3 linked regions of the Homo sapiens genome follow. The protein of the gene in region 1 interacts with the protein of each later gene in a pairwise test. Each region holds a gene or a part of one and is shown on either strand. Other genes may lie near its edges.

The links. The genes of interacting proteins can lie anywhere in the genome.
Region 2: the proteins of ABHD16A (region 1) and DTX2 interact in binary tests that used the Homo sapiens proteins (3 or more experiments, as listed by UniProt).
Region 3: the proteins of ABHD16A (region 1) and GYPC interact in binary tests that used the Homo sapiens proteins (3 or more experiments, as listed by UniProt).

Annotation. Positions count from the first base shown.
Region 1 is NC_000006.12:31,700,315-31,707,272, forward strand, and holds the start of ABHD16A (phosphatidylserine lipase ABHD16A), read right to left. Parts: upstream 3,011-6,958; 5' UTR 2,968-3,010; coding exon 2,836-2,967; intron 2,645-2,835; exon of another isoform or gene 2,455-2,644; coding exon of another isoform or gene 2,298-2,454; intron 1,817-2,297; coding exon 1,760-1,816; intron 1,027-1,759; coding exon 960-1,026; intron 778-959; exon of another isoform or gene 715-777; coding exon 628-714; intron 1-627. Other genes in the region: LY6G6F-LY6G6D protein precursor, read left to right, coding at 6,593-6,644; LY6G6F (lymphocyte antigen 6 complex locus protein G6f precursor), read left to right, coding at 6,593-6,644. UniProt on the Homo sapiens protein: Phosphatidylserine (PS) lipase that mediates the hydrolysis of phosphatidylserine to generate lysophosphatidylserine (LPS). LPS constitutes a class of signaling lipids that regulates immunological and neurological processes.
Region 2 is NC_000007.14:76,464,702-76,471,724, reverse strand, and holds part of DTX2 (probable E3 ubiquitin-protein ligase DTX2), read right to left. Parts: intron 1,706-7,023; exon of another isoform or gene 1-1,705. UniProt on the Homo sapiens protein: Regulator of Notch signaling, a signaling pathway involved in cell-cell communications that regulates a broad spectrum of cell-fate determinations.
Region 3 is NC_000002.12:126,652,119-126,659,173, reverse strand, and holds the start of GYPC (glycophorin-C), read right to left. Parts: upstream 3,017-7,055; 5' UTR 2,911-3,016; coding exon 2,862-2,910; intron 1-2,861. UniProt on the Homo sapiens protein: This protein is a minor sialoglycoprotein in human erythrocyte membranes. The blood group Gerbich antigens and receptors for Plasmodium falciparum merozoites are most likely located within the extracellular domain.

The DNA of each region.
Region 1 (6,958 bases):
GGGGTTTTACCATGTTGGTCAGGCTGGTCTCAAATTCCTGACCTCGTGATCCACTGGCCTCTGCCTCCCAAAGTGCTGGGATTACAGGCATGAGCCACCACACCCGGCCACACAGAACATATTTTATCCATCCTACTATTTGTAGCCACTGGAGTTGTTTCCAGCTTAGGATTATTACAAACAATGTTGTATGCTGTATTCTTGTACATCTATATTGTTTATACATGTGCAGGAGTTTTCCTAGTATGTATACATATATAGAATTGTTGTAGGGTATATGCATCTTTTCTAGATAAAAGCAGCCAGGCATAGTGGCTCACATCTATAATCCCAGTACTTCGGGAGGCTGAGGTGGGAGGATCACTTTGAGTTCAGGAGTTTGAGACCAGCCTGGACAACATGGTGAGACCCTATCTCTTAAAAAAAAAAAAGCAAACCTTTTTGTTACTTTTCAGTTATTTTTTCATATTTATAACCCAAGTCTTTTAAGGAAAAGATCATGCCTTAAACCATTCTCAATGATTCCCTCTCGGAGGCCCATCACTAAAATGTATTTGCACAAGGTACTTAATTTTTAACCAGTGACAGTGACAGATAAGATTCAAACCAGGTTTCCTCTCCACCTACCTCGGAGGCAGGCCACACCTGCCAGAAGTAGCAGCAATGTCCCAGCATAGTGAGAAAACGGCACCACTTTGGACAAACTCAAGTAACCTGGGAAGGGAGAGGGACAATGTGAGACCCTCTCCGCAATGTCCCTCAGCTCCTCTTCCCAGTTCAGCCCCAACCTCCACCCCACACTCCCTGTTTGGAACAGCCATACCCTAAGAGGAAGAAGATGCCTGATGGAAGAGGGAAGCCAAGCCATCTTCACAGGTCCCCTCTCCTCTTTAGGGAGCTGGCTCATCTGCCAACAACCTGCCCATTTGCTACCCCACCACCTTTGAAACCACACTGACCTTTCCTGTACAAGTAGAAGAAGGCGAAGGGAGAGGAGTAATAAGAGATGGACCAGAATACTGAAGCCTGCAGCAGAGAGACAGGGACAGGCAATCAATACACACACACACACACACCTGCCATTCCAGGCATATACTATACACTCTGAGCAAGATGGACAACCTGAGGGATATCATATCATATTTGGTGTATGACACCATGAATACAGTAGGTGCTCAGTATTTGTTGAAAAGTAGTGTGTCAATGTAATGGAGGCTGGGAAAATTTGGTACAGGCTCTATTTTCTTCCTCTGGAATTATGGAAGAATTATGTCTTCCATCTCCAGACATAATTCCATCACATTTAAAGGCAGTCTCTCTGTCTACTCAAGTTAATCAAGCCTTTTCAATTGGCCCTGCTCAGGACAGCCCCTGGCCTGGTCCCCAAGAGATGCGCAAACGTCACCACAGGAACTGTGCCAGAAAGAACAGCTGTCCCTGCAGCCAAAGAGGTTAGTTGCCAGGGAGGACAGGTCACTGGGGAACTGCAGGACTTAGCACCTGCAGATGGTCCCAAGAGTAAACATGTTTTCCTTACGGCTCAGGTTGCCCCCAGAGAAAGCAGTGCTACATACCAAAGGGGAGTGCCAAGTATGCACATTTAGAGTGTGCCTGTGTGTCTGTGTTGGAGAGGTCTGCTGCAGAGCCCAGGGCATCCCCCAACCCCAGGGCACTGTTGCTCCCAAGTTAGGGAGGGCTAAGTTCAAGAGGACAGGTGGGTCTGAAAGATGCAGAGTCCCAGATGCCAGGGTAGACATACCAGTGCCAGGATGCTGTCAGCATGTTTCTCCAGGGCACGGGGCTGATAGTACGTATCCTGCCAAAACAGATGGCCTCCTTAAGGACCCTGCCCACTGGCAGGTCCTTTCCCTTCCCTTTCAGAAGCCCTGCTGTGTGTCCTCTGGTTCTAGTCTCGTTGACTATCTCTCTTGAAACATCCCTGGCCCCCACAGAAACTCCTCTTCCTCACCCTCACTCTGAACCTAATTTCCCACCCCTGACCATGGGAACAAACACAGGGAGCTGGATTTGGAAGCAAAAGTGAAAGCAGCATTGGACGATTTTTGCTCCTTTTCCACAGCCTAGTTTCAAATGGATTGCAGGCGCGTGCATGTGGGGAGAAGGGTTAGTTTGAGAAGAAAGAAAAGACACCTAGACAATCTAAGAAGGAAAGAAAAGCATCAGAAATAAGAGTAGTTGACTAAGAAGAGAATGTGGGTAGGAGCGGGCAGTTTGTAGGAGACAGTAACACAATGAGACAACTGATAAAAAGGAAGAGAATATTTAGAACAGCCTACCACCACCCGCCAGCTCTCCAGAATACAATGACTCGGGTCTCCAGGCTAGGTTGGGCGGGGGTTGAGGGGAGGACCGACGGATACAGGATCTGTAAAAGTCATTCTGAAATTCAAGGCGAGGGTAAAGGGAAGATAAAAACAGAGCCGGGGGAGGCATGAAGAGGCACTGAAGAAGAGGAAACTGGGAGTCTGACAGCAAAATTCAACGGCTCCCCAGTCCGCGCAGGGTCTCTTCCCGGGACTCAAGACTCAACTGGGACCGGCACGAACCACGACACACAGGGTCGGGGGGACGCGGAGAGGAAAGAACAAAGAGTGGCAGTCGGAATGAGAAAGCGGTAAAGAGCGAAAAAGAAAGGAGGCGGCCAGTCCGTAGGCGTGACTTTAACTCAGGAAGCACACAGAGCGCAGATTTTGCGGATAACTGGCTTGACAAGCAGGCTCCCCTTATTTCCCATTATGGGCACTTCTGGGGAGCAAAAGGCCGTAAAGGGTTTGGACTGTACCACGTTCTTCGGTGGGGAGGAACTCGACTCACCCAGGAGCTGGAATGGGGGGCAGTGACTGCCGTTGGCGTCTCAGGGACGCTGGCCGGGGCCCTTTCAGAGTCCCTCTCCCGGTAGATTTTGTAGAGCCGGGGGCCTAGGACGCAGCTCAGCAGCTTCGCCATGGCCCCGGCTCGGGCCGCTGCTCTTCCAGCAGCAGGTCCCCCTGCCGGCCCCGCCCTCCCTGCCTCTGAGGTGTTGTGTGCCCTTGACGTCAGCCCGTACCGGCTCCGCCTCCGGGCGAGTTGCGACATTTTCAGTGCTTCCTGAGAAGAGTTTCGCGCAGTTGGAGCTACGGGTACAGCAGTGGTCCGAAACTAGTGGAAGACCACTAGAACGCGGAGAATCAGAAAATTACCGGGCATGGTTCAATAATTTTTTTCTGTCTCATTATTGGCAGACTCTAGAGCGACAGCGGAAACGAGGGGTGAGATTAGGAGTACTTGATAAGAGTAACCGAAAACATAAGGTGTCTAGGAATGTATCTAGTACAAGAAATGCAAGGTTTTATGAAGAAAACTATAAAAAGTTATTGAAAAGGCAAACTGGCCCGGCCCGGCGCAGTGGCTCACGCCTGTAGTCCTAGCACTTTGGGAGGCCGAGGCGGGGGGATCACTTGAGGCCAGGAGTTCGAGACCAGCCTGGCCAACATGGTGAAACCCCATCTCTACTAAAAATACAAAAATTAGCCTGGCATGGGTGGTGCGCGCCTGTAATCCCAGCTACTCGGGAGGCCGAGACGCGAGAATCGCTTGAACGCGGGAGGCAGAGGTTGCAGTGAGCCGAGATCTTCCCACTGCACTTCAGCCTTGGTGACAGAGCAAGACTCTGTCTCTAAATAAATAAATAAAGGTAAACTGGCCCAGCGCGGTGGCTCACGCCTGTAATTCCAACACTTTGGGTGGCCGAGGGATGATTGCTTGCGTCCAGGAGTTCCAGGCCATGGCTCATGCCTGTAATTCCAACACTTGGGGTGGCTGAGAGAGGATTGCTTGCGCCCTGGAGTTCCAAGCCAGCCCAGGCAACATAGTGAGACCCCATCTCTACACAAAATACCAAGGGGGAAAAAAAAAAGACCTAGCAGGGTGTGGTGGTGCCCACCTGTAGTCCCAGCTACTTGGGAGGCCAAGGTGGGAGGGTCGCTTGAGCCCGGGAGTTTGAGATCGCTCCATGCACTCCAGCCTGGGTGACAGAGCCAGACCCTGCCTCAAAATAATAACAATAATAATTGAAAAAATAAAAAAAGAAAGAGGTAAACGAAAAGCTTTTCAATAAATGGAAAGCTACACCATGGTCCTGGATACGAAAATTCAGCACAGTAAGATATGCGGAATATTTGTAAAAAGAAAATAAATGAATCATTACTGTTATGCATGAACTGGATCTTAAAACCATGATGCTGAGTGAAAATAGAAAGCCACAGAAGAATGTATACGTGATACTAGTATATTAGATTCAAAAACACATAAAATTTAATGATAAAGCAAGTGGAGAAGAAAGAGAAAATTCAGAATTGTGGTTACACAGCATAGAGGATCTCTGACTGAAACGGAATATTCTTTTTTTCTGTTTTTTTTTTTTTTTTTTTTTGAGACAGGGTCTAGCTCTTTCACCCAGGCTGGAGCACAGTGGCACAATCACGGCTCACTGCCCTGATCCTCCACCTGCTGGGCTCAACCATCTTTCTGCCTCAACCTCCTGAGTAGCTGGGACTATAGGCCCACACCACCATACTCGGCTAATTTTACAAGGTCTCACCATGTTGCCCAGGCTGGTCTCGAACTCCTGGGCTCAAGTGAACCTCCTGCTTTGGCCTCACAGAGTGCTGGGATTACAGGCATGAGCCACTGTGCCTGGCCTGGAATATTCTATTTCTTTTTCTTTTTTTTTTTTCGAGACCGAGTTTCGCTCTTATTGCCCAGGCTGGAGTGCAATGGCCCGATCTCGGCTCACCACAACCTCTGCCTCTGGGGTTCAAGCGATTCTCCTGCCTCAGCCTCCCAAGTAGCTGAGATTACAGGCATGTACCACCATGCCCTGCTAATTTTTTTATTTTTAGTAGAGATGGGGTTTCTCCATGTTGGTCAGGCTGGTCTTGAACTCCTGACCTCAGGTGATCCGCCTGTCTCATCCTCCCAAAGTGGTGGGATTACAGGCATGAGCAACCGAGTCCGGCCTGGAATATTCTATTTATTTATTTATTTATTTATTTATTATTTATTTATTTTTTTGAGACGGAGTCTCGCTCTGTCACCAGGCTGGAGTATAGTGGCATGATCTCTGCTCACCGCAGCCTCTGCCTCCTGAGTTCAAGCGATTCTCCTGCCTCAGCCTCCTGAGTAGCTGGGACTACAGGCATCCACCACCACACTCAGCTAATTTTTGTATTTTTAGTAGAGACAGGGTTTCACCATGTTGGCCAGGATAGTCTCGATCTCTTGACCTCGTGATCCGCCTGCCTCAGCCTCCCAAAGTGCTGGGATTACAGGCGTGAGCCACGGCGTCTGGCCTTTATTTTCAGAGTTGGGGTCTTGCTCTGTTGCCCAACCTCAAACTTCTGGCTTCAATCAACCCTCCCACCTTGGCCTCCAAAAGTGTTAGGATTGTAGACATGAGCCACCATGCCTGGCCAGGCTTCTTTTACTCTCATTATATTGTGAGATTCAACTTTGTTGCAAATCACTAGGTTTGTTCATTCTCATTGCTGTCCAGTCTTCTACTCTGTTAAGCATTTATCCATTATATAGTTGTACTTCATATAGTTTTTGGTATGTATGGAATATTTCATCAAAATAATTTTAAAAATAAATAAATTACACATTAAAACTGTAATAACTGCATGAAGATCTGCCTTAGGAGTTTTTGCCGTTCAGAAGGATGAATCAGCCCGTTAGCCTTGTCCCTGAGTAATAATTTAATACACTTATTAGGGTTTCAGGAGAGGTCCGGGGTATGCCAGACAACCACAGGGAAAGTCATTCCAAATCATTTACGGGACACTGACTCGATACACAGTCTTGTGCTGGGTTCTGTGGAGGACCAACATAAAAACTCAAACTCAGTTTCTTCACTCATAGCTGACATTTCTTTTCTTTTCTTTTCTTTTTCTTTTTTTTTTTTTTTTTTTTTTTTTTTGAGATGAAGTCTCGCTCTGTCTCCCAGGCTGGAGTGCAGTAGCACGATCTCGGCTCACTGCAACCTCCACCTCCCGGGTTCAAGCGATTCTGGTGCCTCTCAGCTTCCTAAGTAGCTGGGATTACAGGCACATGTCACCACGCCTGGCTAATTTTTGTATTTTTTGTAGAGACAGGGTTTCGCCATGTTGGCCACGCTGGTCTCGAACTCCTGACCTCAAGTGATCCACCCAACTCATGGCTGACCTTTCTTAGGAGTGAAAGAGACCTCAGAATGTACTTCCAGACTGACAAGAGCTAGACAGGCAGGACCACTTCTCTGCATGGTTTTTTGCATGGAAAGTCTTTATTTGAGCCCCTTAGCTGATGTGGAATCAGAAGAGCAAAAAGGTCATCTTCAGAGTGGCCTGGGCTGGGTCCTTTTCTCTCCAGGATAGAAAAGTGGTGGTCACTTTATCCCTAGTAGACATGCTGCTGGGCTTTATCGCCCCAGCATTCCCATCCCCTCCAGAGCCCCTTGTCACTCCAGACCAGCGAGTGTGGGCCTTTATCTGGACTCTGCTTCCTCCCTGGGGACACCAGGTCTTGGAGCAAGAGAACTTGGCAGGCTCTCCCCATGGCAGTCTTATTCCTCCTCCTGTTCCTATGTGGAACTCCCCAGGCTGCAGGTAAGGGGCAAGAGGTACGGGATTCCTTAGCTATTTGCAAGGTTGGGGAGGGACTACTGCTCTTTCTCCTAGGAGCCTGGCGAAGGCATCTGACTCAAGAAGATAGAATTACCCCAACCAACCTCCTCCTGCCTCTGACACTAGGGAAGACCCAGAGGCAACGAGGGTCCAGGTTATGCAGTTTCCTTTATAAAATAAGAAGAATGAGTAAATGCTTCCAGAAAAGTAGAAATGAGTAGAAGAGATGTGGGCATTTGCCAACTTTCAGCCTTTTCCCTCTTGCCCTCAGACCCCCTCACTGGCTGGGGGAGAGA
Region 2 (7,023 bases), on another chromosome or scaffold:
GTGGATGTGTAATGGTAACAGTAATAGCAGGCCTGGTGCAGTGGCTCACACCTTGTGATCCCAGCACTTTGACTGGCTGAGGCAGAAGGACTGCTTTGAGCCCAGGGGTTCAAAGTTGCAGTGAGCTATGATCGTGCCACTACACTCCAACCTGGGCAACAGAGCGAGACCCTGTCTCTTTAAAAAAAAATAAATAACAGCCAAGCAGGAACCCGCATCCAGGAACACAGCCCTTTGCTCCTCCCTCAGAATGAATGGAAACCAGGCTGGGCGCGGTGGCTCACACCTGTAATCCCAGCACTTTGGGAGGCCAAGGCGGGCGGATCACGAGGTCAGGAGATCGAGACCATCGTGGCTAACATGGTGAAACCCTGTCTCTACTAAAAATACAAAAAATTAGCCGGGCGCGGTGGCGGGTGCCTGTAGTCCCGGCTACTAGGGAGGCTGAGGCAGGAGAATGGCGTGAACCCAGGAAGTGGAGTTTGCAGTGAGCCAAGATCGCGCCACTGCACTCCAGCCTGGGCGACAGAGCAAGACTCCGTCTCAAAAAAAAAAAAAAAAAAAAAAAGAACGAATGGAAACCAGAAATCAGATATTTATGCCCAAGCAAAGCAGGATTTCGTTCAGCACTACTCCCAGATCGTTAGGGTGCTGACTGAGGATGAGATGGGGCACCCAGAGACAGGAGATGCTACTGCCCGGCTCAAGGAGGTCCTGGAGTACAATGCCATTGGAGGCAAGTATCACCGAGGTTTGATGGTGCTAGTAGCGTTCCGGGAGCTGGTGGAGCCGAGGAAACTGGATGCTGATAGTCTCCAGTGGGCACCGACTGTGGGCTGGTATGCGCAACTGCTGCAAGCTTTCTTCCTGGTGGCAGATGACATTATGGATTCATCCCTTACCTGCCAGGGACAGATCTCCTGGTATCAGAAGCTGGGCATGGGTTTGGATGCCATCAATGATGCTATCCTTCTGGAAGCATGTATCTACTGCCTGCTGAAGCTGTATTGCCGGGAGCAGCCCTATTACCTGAACCTGATGGAGCTCTTCCAGCAGAATTCTTATCAGACTGAGATTGGGCAGACCCTCGACCTCATCACAACCCCCCAGGGCAATGTGGATCTTCGCAGATGCACCGAAAAAAGGCACAAATCTGTTGTCAAGTACAAGACAGCTTTCTACTCCTTCTACCTTCCTGTAGCTGCAGCCATGTACATGTCAAGAATGGATGACAAGAAGGAGCACACCAGTGCCAAGAAGATCCTGCTGGAGATTCAAGAGTTCTTTCAGATTCAGGATGATTACCTTGACTTCTCTGGGGACCCCAGTGTGACTGGCAGAGTTGGCAATGACTTCCAGGACAACAAATGCAGCTGGCTGGTGGTTCAGTGTCTGCTACAGGCCACTCCAGAACAGTACCAGATCCTGAAGGAAAATTACAGGCAGAAGGAGGCCGAGAAGGTGGCCCGGGTGAAGGCACTATACGAGGAGCTGGATCTGCCAGCCGTGTTCTTGCAGTATGAGAAAGACAGTTACAGCCACGTTATGGGTCTCATCGAATAGTACGCAGAGCCCCTGCCCCCAGCCATCTTTCTGGGGCTTGTGCACAAAATCTACAAGTGGAAAAAGTGACCTAGAGACTGCAAGGGCGGGGAGAGAAGGCTCTCAATAAGTAAATTATTGTGTAAAATAAATAAATAAATGAATAACAGCAATGGCTACCAGGTAAAGGTTTACCAGGCACCAGGCACCGTGCTAAGCCCCTCCACCTGACTAGTAATTCTCGTTGGTCCTCACAACTGGGGAAGCGGGATATTTCCATACCACAACTGAGAAAAGTGAGTCACCAGAAGACATGCAGCTTGCCCAAGGATATCCAGGGACTGAGAAAACCCAAATCTGTTTCCAGAGTTCCTGTCTTTCCCACCAAGACAGACTGACGACGGACAAACTGGCCTGTAGATGTGTTTTGCTTGGGTTACTAAGGTTTGGCTTTTAAAAACTGAGCTGATGTTTAAAAATTGGAATATTTGGCCGGGCTCAGTGGCTCACACCTGTAATCCCAGCACTTTGGGAGGCCGAGGCAGGCAGATCATGAGGTCAGGAGAGCGAGACCATCCTGGCTAATGCAGTGAAACCCTGTCTCTACTAAAAAATACAAAAAATTAGCCAAGTGTGGTGGCGAGCGCCTGTAGTCCCAGTTACTCGGGAGGCTGAGGCAGGAGAATTGCTTGAACCTAAGAAGTGGAGGTTGCAGTGAGCCAAGATTATGCCACTGCACTCCAGCTTGGGCGACAGAATGAGAATCCGTCTCAAAAAAAAAAAAAAAAGGAATATTCACAGTAAAAAAAAAAAAAAAAAAAATCTAGATTTCAAGCTTCCCTTGAAAATCAGGAAAGATGGCAATATTTGCAGGCTGGACCTAGATCCATGATCTACCTAGCAACACCAGCTAAACTGCAATGGTGGCTGGAACGTCCTCTCTGGGTGGCCACAGCTACCATGACTCCCTATGGCTAGGGCCAGCATGCTTTTCCTGTAAAGGACAGAAAAAGTCTTTGCAGTGACTCTGCCACTAGACCACAAGAACAACCATAAACAATGTGTAAACAGGAGGGGTTGCATACCAATATAACTTTATGAACAAAATCAGGCAGTGGGGCTGAATGCGGTAGCTCACGCCTGTAATCCCAGCACTTCGGGAGGCTGAGGTGGGTGGATCATTTGAGGCCAGGAGTTTGAGACCAGCCTGGCCAATACAGTGAAACCCCGTATCTACCAAAAAAATACAAAGATGAGCCAGGCGTAGTGGCGTGCACCTGTAGTCCCAGCTACTTGGGAGGCTGGGGCAGGAGAATCACTTGAACCCAGGAGGCGGAGGCTGCAGTGAGCCGAGACTGTGCCACTGTACTCCAGCCTGGGCAACAGAGTTAGACCCTGCCTCAAAAAAAAAAAAAAAAAAAAAATGCTGGGCGTGGTGGCTCACGCCTATAATCCCAGCACTTTGGGAGGCCAAGCGGGGGTGGATCACCTGAGGTCAGGAGTTCGAGACCAGCCTGGCCAACATGGTGAAACCTTGTCTCTACTAAAAATACAAAAATTAGCCAGGCATGGTGGCTGGTGCCTGTAATCCCAGCTACTCAGGAGGCTGAGGCAGGAGAATTTCTTGAACCTGGGAGGCGGAGGCTGCAGTGAGCTGAGATCGTGCCATTGCACTCCAGCCTGGCAACAGAGTGAGACTCCATCTCAAAAAAAAAAAAAAAAAAAAAAAAAAAATGGCAGTGGGCCAGATTTGGCTGAGGGTCCATCGTTTGCAGACCTCTGCCCTGTGGCCTCCCTCACATCTATTACTGTACTTTCACACTCCTACAGTTGAGCAATACTTCTCTGAACTCATGTCTCTATCAAAAAGTGAGAGAGTGCTCTGCCTCTGGCTAGCTTTGCCAACAACACGCCCTGCCCTCTGCAGACATGTCAGCCTTTGCCCAACACCTAAGGGTGAAATACAGCATCCAACAGCACAGCAGGCAGCATGCCAACAGCACCCGCCCCTGGGAAGCCCCAGGTGCTCCCCAGAGCCACACCGGGCGTTGATAACATTCTCTGCATCCGGGAATCAGGCCCTGGCCTCCCTCTCCCCTCCTCCCCTCCTCTCTCCATTCCCCCCGGATCCTCAGGATCTGTTCCCATGGCTTCAATATTCCCTTGCATACAGATCACCCAAAGCTGTCCTCGGGATGCCCTGCCCGAGCCCCTCAAACCGTCAGCTCCTGCCATCTGGACCTCCTGGCAGTGCCCAGGGCAGGTCAGGATGTTTCATGCCCTTCGTCCCCCACTGAGAATGCCCATCGCACTTGTCCACTTACTCATCTCTTAATTCCTAGCTCAAGACTCTGCCCTGTGAGATCTTTCCTAAGTTCGCTCCCGCTCCACAGGCAGAAGTGGCCACTTCTAACAATCAATGCCCACATGACGTCTCAGTGCCATTATCTGTCTCCTCCACTGGAGAATGCATACGCTCCTTAAAGGCAAGGGTTATGTTCAGGAAAAGACTTCAAACCAGACCCAGAAAACTGAGTACTAGGGAAAAAATACATTTCGCTATGTTAAAATGAAGAATGGCTGATCAACAGAAGACACCTTAAAGAAAGAGGAATAATAGGTTAAAAGCTGGGAGAAGATATTTGCAATAGACACGAAGGATTAAAATCAGCAATATATAAAGAGCCCTATAGATCAACAAAAAATAAAGCACCAAGAACCCTAATGAAAAACTGGCAAAAGACATGAATATTTCACAGGAAACACATATGCCAATAAACATAAGAGGAGATATTCAGCAGCAGGGCTCAGGGACCTAGAAACCAAGTTCCCAAAGATTCCATTTTCTACCCATTCACTTGGCCAACAGCAAATGTTGGTAAGACTGTGGAGCTGCAAGACACAGGACACTGCTGGTAAAGTGGATACTGGTATAAGCACTACATTCAGGAAATGGTCTAGCAATAGCTACGAAAGATGAACACTGCCGAGCATGGTGGCTCATGTCTATCATCCCAGCACTTTGGGAGGCCAAGGCGGGTGAATTGCTTGAGCCCAGGAGTTCAAGACCAGCCTGGGCAACACAGTGAAGCTGCCTCTGCACAAACTTTAAAAATTAGCTAAGCATGGTAGCCTGTGCCTGTAGTCCCAGCTATTCAGGAGGCTGAAGGGGATGGATCCATTGAACCCAGGAATTTGGGGCGGCAGTGATCCGTGATTATGCCACTGCACTCCAGCTGCCTGGGTTACAAGGTGAGACACTGTCTCTAAAAAAAGAAAGAAATAGGCCAGGCGCGGTGCCTCACACCTGTAATCCCAGCACTTTGGGAGGCCGAGGCAGGTGGATCACCTGAGGTCAGGAGTTTGAGACCAGTCTGACTAACATGGAGAAACTCCGTCTCTACTAAAAATACAAAATTAGCCGGGCATGGTGGCGCATGCCTGTAATCCTAGCTACTCCGGAGTCTGAGGCAGGAGAATCGGGAGTAGCTTGAACCCGGGAGGTGGAGGTTGCAGTGAGCCGAGATCGTGCCATTGCACTCCAGCCTAGGCAATAAGAGTGAAACTCTGCCTCAAAGAAAAAAAAAAAAGAGACAGAGAAACAAAGAAATACACATGTAAGATAAAACTAAGAAAAAAATGAAAGAAAGGAGATAATGATTACCTCAGGGTAAGAACAGAAAACAAGTTCAAATGAAATGATTAGATGTTCTAAGGGGACCTGATAAAGTAGAAAACTTTTTAAAGTTTTTTAAAATTAAAAAAAAAAGATTAGATATATACTTTTGTTTCATGATCCCAGCTTTTGTTTTGGGTGCCTAGATTGCCAGAGCTTACTACATTTATTAAAAATAACTTACTAAATAAGGAAAAGTAGGTCAGGCATGAACACTGAGGAGTGTGTACTAATCAATCTTGTTCTCAGCTTAGCTGATAAGGCAAACACCAAAGAGACTGCTGAATTCATCTTTGTACTCCAAGTGCCAAACACAAGCCTCGGCGCACAGAATTTCGGGAGGCATTTGGGGAATGAATCAGGGCTCTTCTCTCTAGCCCATGGCCTCATTTCCTGTTGGCCTCTTAATACCTTCAACACGTCTGAGGCCAAACGCATCTTCCTTCCTCATTCTCCTTTTCCCCCTGGATTTCCCCCAGGCGGCCAAGAGAAAAACCTCAGATTCTCAGTCCTCCGCAGCCCGCTCCCCCAGGCCTAGCAGCTGCCTGCCCTGCTCTCTCCTCACCTCTGAAGCCCCCTGCTAACACCTGGCCGGGACCCTTATGCCTCTCACTTTACCCCCTCCCTGCCGGGCGCAGTGGCTCACGCCTGTAATCCCAGCACTTTGGGAGGCCTCGGTGGGTGCATCACCTGAGGTCAGGAGTTCGACACCAGCCTGGCCAACAGAGGGAAACCCCGTCTCTACTAAAAATACAAAAATTAGCCAGGCATGGTGGCAGGTGCTTGTAGTCCTAGCTACTTGGGAAGCTGAGGCAGGAGAATCACTTGAACCCGGGAGGTGGAGGTTGCAGTGAGCCAGGATGGCGCCACTGCACTCCAGCCTGGGTAACAGAGCGAGACTCCATCTCAAAAAAACAAAACAAAACAAAAAAACAAATAAGTGCTCCCTCCCAAACAGCTTCTCCAACTCTGCTTTCTAACCCTCTTGTACATCTCAGATGGGGGGGCAGAAAAGATTAAGCTTCCTGAACTAACGTTCTGATCTTGTCTTTTACACACCTCCCCTGGATCTCTAGAATGAAATTCAAATTCCTTAGGCTGACAGTCAAAGCCGATCACAATACCGCCCTTCCCTCGCTATCAACAATATTTGCCGGTGCCCTTCCCTTCCATCCCCTCATCTATACCTCCCTCTCCACAATTCCCTTCCAGAGTGTAAATGAGGATCCACTACTCCCATGTGCATCAGCGTGTCTGTCCCCACCCCCATGACTCTGCTTCACCCTGAATCCCACCCACTTGGTCCCCTGTCCTCACCTTACCCACCCTTTTATGGCCCAATTTAAACAGCACTTCCCACGATGCCTGGATGTGCCCAGCAGAAAGCAAACACCCTCTAAATCAGCCAGGCATGATGGTGTGCACCTGTAAGTCCAGCTACTCGGGAAGCTGAGGCACAAGAACCTCTTGAGCCTGGGAGGTGAAGTTGAGCAGTGAGCTGAGATTGCACCACCGCTCTCCAGCCTGGGTGACAGAGTAAGACCCTGTCTCAAAAAGTAAACAAACAAAACAAAACAACAACAACAAAAAGAATGAAAGAAAACACCCTCTTAGCAAGTTCCTTTTCAGTTCTCTATGTTCACTTTATCTCTTCAACTAGACTATAAGCAACTGAGGGCAAAACCACTCACCTGCCTCTCCCCACGAAGAAGCTGGCATGATGTATGTAAGAAGACCGCCACAAAGCGAATAATCCAGTCTAAACCCATTCCACATGTTCCAGTGTGCTCCATTAAAATGTCCCT
Region 3 (7,055 bases), on another chromosome or scaffold:
AGCGTTTGTTTTGTTGTTTTACCTCTCAGTTTGGCCAAGATAAAAAATGCAGTGTGAGTGAGGACGCAGGGAAATAGTGACTTTCATAGGCTATTTGTGAGCATGAGAAACCGGTGTGACCTTTAGGAGGGTAGTTTCTTAAGATCTACTAACATTTTAAATGAATACACACTTTGTCCCAGAAATCAAATGCTGAGGTGGGAGAATTTATCCTAACAGTTTACAGACACATGCATGTAAAATCCTCCTTACTCATTGTCACAGGACTGCTGTGTGTGGTTTAAAAAAATTAAATGAAGTCTGCATACAGCCTAAATGCCCATCAGCAGAGGAACTGATTAAAGAAAATAACAAGGTATAACCTTTAAGAGATATTCTGATGGAAAAAAAACAAGATGAAGTAAAATATATAAAATGCATTTTTATTATGTAAAATAAGAAATATTTGTATCAGCAAATTTACTTCTAGAAGGATTATCCTCAATAAATAAAGTAATTGCCATTGAGGTAGGGAGAAGGTGTCTTTCTCCTATTTTTAACTCTTCATTCACTGTTAACTTTACTGTTTGTTTGGTTTTGTATTTAGAGCGTGCTTGTTGGCCCACTGGGTATGCTCAGTTACTGGAAGATGTTTTGGCTGTGGCCTCAGACAGGCACTTGAGGCATAGATGTACATACAGGTCTGCCACCTGAAGAGGCAAACTGACTTGACTTGGCCCAACCTCTCACCTCTGTTGAGGGGACCTCTTCCTACTCACTGCAGATGGGTTCACTTGTTCCCACCACAAGCGCAGAATGCCTTGTACTTCACAACCCTTTGCTCCCCAGGGAGCTCTGCAAGTCCCCAGAAATACTTGCCCAACCACGGGCACCCTTGGAAGGGTCCAGCTGCTGACCACCAGCATCATGTGACTCCCAGTGCCAGTGACATCTGGAGGAATTGAGCAATGGCTGAGGTGGAATTTCATTTGGCACTTAATGCAATCCTCTGCTTCTGCCAGAGGCGGTGAATTCTATATAAAGCTGCCAAACCTGGCCGTCTTCTCACTGAGCCTTGACCCCTTCCATCCAAGGGCAAGGCAATGGATTGCTGTGCATGACTCACGCGCAGTAACTGTGGCATTGGGGCCTAGCCCAGCTGAGCTGAGCAGAGCAGGCCGGCCTGGCGGAAGTGGGTCCTCTCCGCTCTAACCTCTGGCTCTGATGAGCAGCTACATAAACTGAGACAGGATATAGACACATCCTGCCTGAGTTAGCAGCAAGAAATAGCCGCCCCCCACCCCCCCTGCAGTTCTCGCACAGCAGGGATCCTGCCATAAATCAATCCGAAGTCTAATGTGGAATGGCTTGCAAGCAAGGGCTGCACCGCTGTTTGTCTCCCAAGGCAAGTGTTGAAGGTCTGAAACCTGAGTCCTGGAGAACTGCTTGGGCTGCTGGGCTGGGCTGGGCACGGGGGCGGGGGTCAGGCAAGCCCATCCTCTTCAGACATGAGAATGCCTCTCAGCCTCACCTCCTCAGTGACTGAATTGGAATAATGACAGTGGCTCCTGTCCCTTTAACCCAGGACCTGCCGTATACACACACATAAACATATGCTCAAGTTACGTGCTCCGGGAACCACAGTCTCATGTGCAATTATATAAACATGCCCAGCACGGATCCAGCACTTAGGATGTGTCAGACTCCGTGCCGGGACATTTATACGCACTTCGTGCTGCTGGATGAGTTATCTCCTGTTATTATTCCTACTTTCCTACTTTGCAGATGAGGAAACTGGAGCTAAGAGAGGCTGCCTTGTTTATAGGCAGTGCAGATGATCCCAGTGCAGACTGAGGGGCCTCGCTCCCAAGCACCACTGATGCCTGCGCACTCCCAGGCTGACGCAAGCACAACCACAGGCACATGGAGTGCCGTGTACACACGTAGACCGAAGCAGCACTCCTCCACGCCAAGCTCCAAGCTCAGGCGGGGTGAGGGGTGAGGCCTCACAACCCCCTGGATTTCAAAGACTTATAAAAGAGTTGGTGTCTCCAATACCCATATCATTATCATATCAATAAGGTATCATTGTCACATGATAGGCTCAGGGTATCTCCTCTCTGACAGACTCTAAGAATCAGACCGCGGCAGGGTGGGGGTAAGAGGGATGTACATTACGTTTTTTGGTAAAATCAAATGGTAGTTTTTATTGCAAAAGTCCAACGGCAGAGGAAGAGGGCAGAGAGAGGCCCAGCAATGTTTCCAAGCATCTACAAAGACTTTCATCACAGATGATTTCCTCTCAGCAAGAAAACGTGATGGTTTAAAAGAGAAAACCAGCAGCGAGGAATTACAAATCCCCAAAGGATCCAGGCCGCAGGATTCCCTCGCATCTGTGTGCCTTTGCGGCGCCCAGCGGAGCGAGCAAGTCCCTGGGCAAGGCTGGAGTTGCCTGGAGTTCACCGGAGCCTGGCCGGTCGGACCCTGGCTGGGGAGCAGCACAGAAGCAACTTGTGATGTGAACTCTCACCTAACTGTTCTTTAGGGAGACAATTCTGGCCCCACACATTTCACATGCCCCGCACAAAGAAACAGAAAGCGGGCGACACGCCCTGGGAGGGCGGGCTGGCGGCTTCTCCAGCTCGGAGCGCGTGGAGGCTGCGCGTAGGGGTCCGGGACGCGGGACAGGGACTCCGCGCAGCCCAGGCGCCGGGGAACCGGGGCTGGAGTCGGGGATCTGAGCCCAGCGGACGCCTCCTCCGCCTGGAGGCCCGGCACGGACCGGGACACCAGGGCGTCCGTGGCCGTGGCTCGGCCCCTGGCTGCTGCGGGCCGCGGCCTCCAGTGGGTCCCCAGGACCCTTCCCCACGGCGGGTACTCACCGAGGCTGAGAGGCCACGCCGTGCTGTTGGGGCTTCTCGTCGACCACATTCCTGGGCGTCAGCCCGGGCAGAGACCGCGGGGACTGGCCAGGCCGGGCCAGGCCGGGCCGGGGGAGGGTCGCGCTCCCGGGCTCCTGACCCTCGGCGGCGAGAGGAAGCGGCACCTGGGTCACACTCCTCCCGCGCGGGCCGAGGGGAGGGGCTCTGGCCCGGAGATAGGCAGACTTCATTTATTTTTTTTCTGCAGACTTGGCTGGTGGGGTTTCCACCCCCTTTTTTTTTTTTAAACACACACCCGCCCACTTCTGAACTCTTCTTTGCTCCAACTTTCCTGCGCAAGAACCACGCTTTTCTAACCGTTTCTCTTTCCATCTGCCACTACCGGATACAGAGGTTGTGGTTGAGAATTCCCCCTGGAGTGCAGGGAAAACTCCCCAATGTGACATGATGGCCTGGCCCAGCACTGTCGGGGATGGTGACCAAATAGGGCAGACCTGTGTTGAAATCTTGGCTGGCTGCGCGGCCGCTGGATAGCTGGGCGGCCTCTCTCAGCTGCGGGGCATTTGTCCCTGGAGAGAGTCCCTGTCTTGTTGGCCTTTGGGGGCCCTGTACTCATGGATGGGCTGTTGAGCAAAGATCATTCCAAAACAGGAAGAATTGCTGGACAAGAGTCGTGATTTGTTCCCATTGCTTTTGTCTGAAGCTGCCAGACACAGTGCAGTTTGTGAATTCGCTCTACTTTTGCCATGAAAATCTCCACGTGGATTTCGATACATACCTTTGTTGGTTAAATGCAGTCAAATGGCACCACCTACAAAAAATGTATCATAGCATTATCTGCCCCTTCTGCCCAGAGACAAGGGCAGGGAACTTGAGGCCCTTGTTTTAAATCCCCACCCAGGGGAACACCCTGTGCTTCTCCTGTGTGATGTCTGAACCTTCCTGTGCTGCTTTTCATTGTTTACTTTATAGTTCCCCAAGCACTTTTGTGACGCCCACCTCTCCCCTACCTTCTGCCATTAAGGCCTATCCTGCACAATCCGGAGAGCCAGGCCAGCTGTCTGTACAATGTATGGGCGGTGCCTTTGGGACTGTCATCTGCATTGAATACAATGAGAGGCTGCGCCCTGGAGATTTGCAACACAGAGGCTTTGCTCACCTCTAGCCGGGCTGCACAAACTCCAGGCCTTCTTGACGCAGTGGGAAAGCACTCATGATTCACTTTAGTTAGATCATGAAGAACCCCCGATGCTGATAGATCTTTACTCCAACTGCCATGTGCAGCACAGCCATGTTGAATTGAAATAAACTACTCACAGAATGCCTTTGGCCTGGTGGGGAAGCCCTGAGTCTTGATTTCCTCATCTATAAAATGGAGGCAAGAACACCTGCATTCCGGGGTTTTACAGAGGCAGTGATTGTAGAATCACAGTGGGAACAGAAAAGGCATTTAATAAACAGCAATGAGTAATGATTAATTTATTTTTATTTATTTATTTATTTATTTTTCTGAGACGGAGTTTTTGCTCTTGTTGCCCAGGCTGGAGTCCAACGGCGTGATCTCGGCTCACCACAACCTCCGCCTCCTGGGTTCAAGCAATTCTCCTGCCTCAACCTCTCGAGTAGCTGGGATTACCAGCATGTGCCTCCACGCCTGGCTAATTTTGTATTTTTAGTAGAGACGGGGTTTCTCCATGTTGGTCAGGCTGGTCTCGAACTCCCGACCTCAGGTGATCCACCCACCTTGGCCTTCCAAAGTGCTGGGATTACAGGCGTGAGCCACTGCACCCGTGATTACTTTAACAGTTTAACTTTTTTTTTTGGTAATACATACACATACGTCTACGTGGAACAGTAGTCCCGCTCCTCTGTCCTGAGAGAAAATAACTTTAATTATCTGAAATGCAGCTGGAAAGTTGGAAAGAAGCAGAAAGTTCTGCCAGGTAACAACGGACAAGTCATTAGGTCATTGCAGCACACTTAGAGAAGTCACTTTTACAGACTCATTTAGAACCTACTGGCCTTAGACGTAATCATAAGAGATTTCCTTAATTTCTTAGGGTAAGACAGGTTGAAGGCATCAAAATGTTGCAGAGAATTCCTTACAGAAAATAAGCCAAAAATTAATAAACTAACGAACTAAACAGTGAAAATTGAAAGCCCCACAAACTGCAGAGGTCAGATACAAGAACGAAGTAGCATTTGTTACAGAACTAAAGCAATCTCAGCTCCAGCCATCACTGGAGGATGTGACAGTTCCTTGCGCTATTAAAGACCACAGGGCTTTGGAACTCAATCTGGGTTAGTTACTCTACTGCCTACTAGCTGCGTAACCTTCAGCATTTCACTTTCTTTCTCTGAGCCTCATTTTTCTCAGCCTGGAAATTGGAGCAATCTGCAAAGTTAGGCTGTTGTGAGTAATATATTCGATAATAATTAAAGAGGTAATTACAATGAGAGTACACTGGAGTTACTTAAAGATATTGGCCCCCTTCCTCCTCTAACACATACTTTGTTCATAGTAAGGACCCCAAGTCATTTGAAAAAGAAAGTAAATAGTGTGTCTTAGTGTGTAGCAAATTAGCTAACAGGGAAACATTTGACATATTTTAGAAAATTTAACTATGAAAGTGTCTAATGTTAAATAAATGACTCTTAAGAAGGGAAAATAATTATGTGAAAAATTTAATTATATGGTAACAGTCTGACATAAGTCAAGAAATGTATTATTAGTGTGTCTTCATGTGTTGGATATTTATTAATGAAGTTAAAAAAAAAACTCAGCTATATCTTGCAATAATAAACCAGTTCTTATCTTGTCTAGTTCCCATAAATACTCTTAAACGGAGTATTGCCAAGAGTCCATTGTAAAGATGAGAACCCAGAAGTTCAGCACAGTGACAAGAACTTGCTCTGCAGTGCAGCCGGGATGGACGGTTCTAGCTGTGTCTTCATTGACTGTCTGTGGCTGATACAAGCTGCAGAGCCCTCCAAGATGTGAGATGGTATGATCCAGTCCTGGAGATGAATTTTCTCTTCCTCTTCAGGGAAGAAACTGCTCATGGGAAACTGCCTTCCAAATCCTCAGTGCTAGTTCCTTATTGGGAGTGGAGTTGGCGGTCCCCTGCTGCTGTTGCTGTCTCCTGGGTGAGCCCTTACAGATGGTGGTAGGTAGATGTTGCTTGGGCCTTTAATGAAAGGTTTTGCCCCTCATCACAGTAACACATGCTCTTTGTGCAAAAAGAAAAAATAAAAAAGAAAAAGCCAAAAAGATACCTAAACCCTAAGAATTGCTTGCAATCTCCAGCACATTAAGGTTATTTACCTTTAGTCTTTTTTATGCATTTACGAATATTTGCTTTATACTCTTGAGATTTTACTGAATACGTGATTTCAAGTGCTGAGCTTTTACTACTAAACATTATGTCATGAGCATTTTCTCATGTAAAAGTAGAAAAGCTCTTTAACTCATTTTAATTACTAGGTTGTTTCATTTTCTTTGCTGGTTGAATAGTGCTGTGATAACCATATGAACATAAATATCTGGATTTCATAATTTTTTCCTTAGGGTATATTCTGACAAGCAGAATTACTCAATCAAAGGTTACAAATGCATTTAAAGCTTTTGATACATTCATAAGTTCTGGCTGTGACCTTTACTTTCTTCCCAATCAAGAGTACCAGTGTTTATCTCAGAGTCTCTTGCCAGAATTAAACAGCAAACTTAAAATCATAGTTAATTCCATAGAAAAGAAACATACATAGTTATTTGTGTCAGCATTTTCTTTGATTACCAGAGAGGCCGAATATGCTGTCAGTTGCTTATTTACAAATCACAGCTTCTTTTAGGTGAATATTTTGTTCACACTGTTTCCTCATTTGGAGGTGTGATGGTTAATACTGAGTGTCAACTTGATTGGATTGAAGGATACAAAGTATTAATCCTGGGTATGTCTATGAGAGTGTTGCCAAAAGAGATTAACATTTGGGTCAGTGGGCTGGGGAAGGCAGATCCACCCTTAATCTAGTGGGCACCATCTAACCAGCTTCCAGGGAATATAGAGCAGGCAGAAAAACATGAAAAGGAGGGATGGGTCTGGCCTCCCAGCCTACATCTTTCACCCGTGCTGGATGCTTTCTGCCCTGGAACATCAGACTCCAAGTTCTTCAGTTTTGGGATTTGGACTGGCTCTC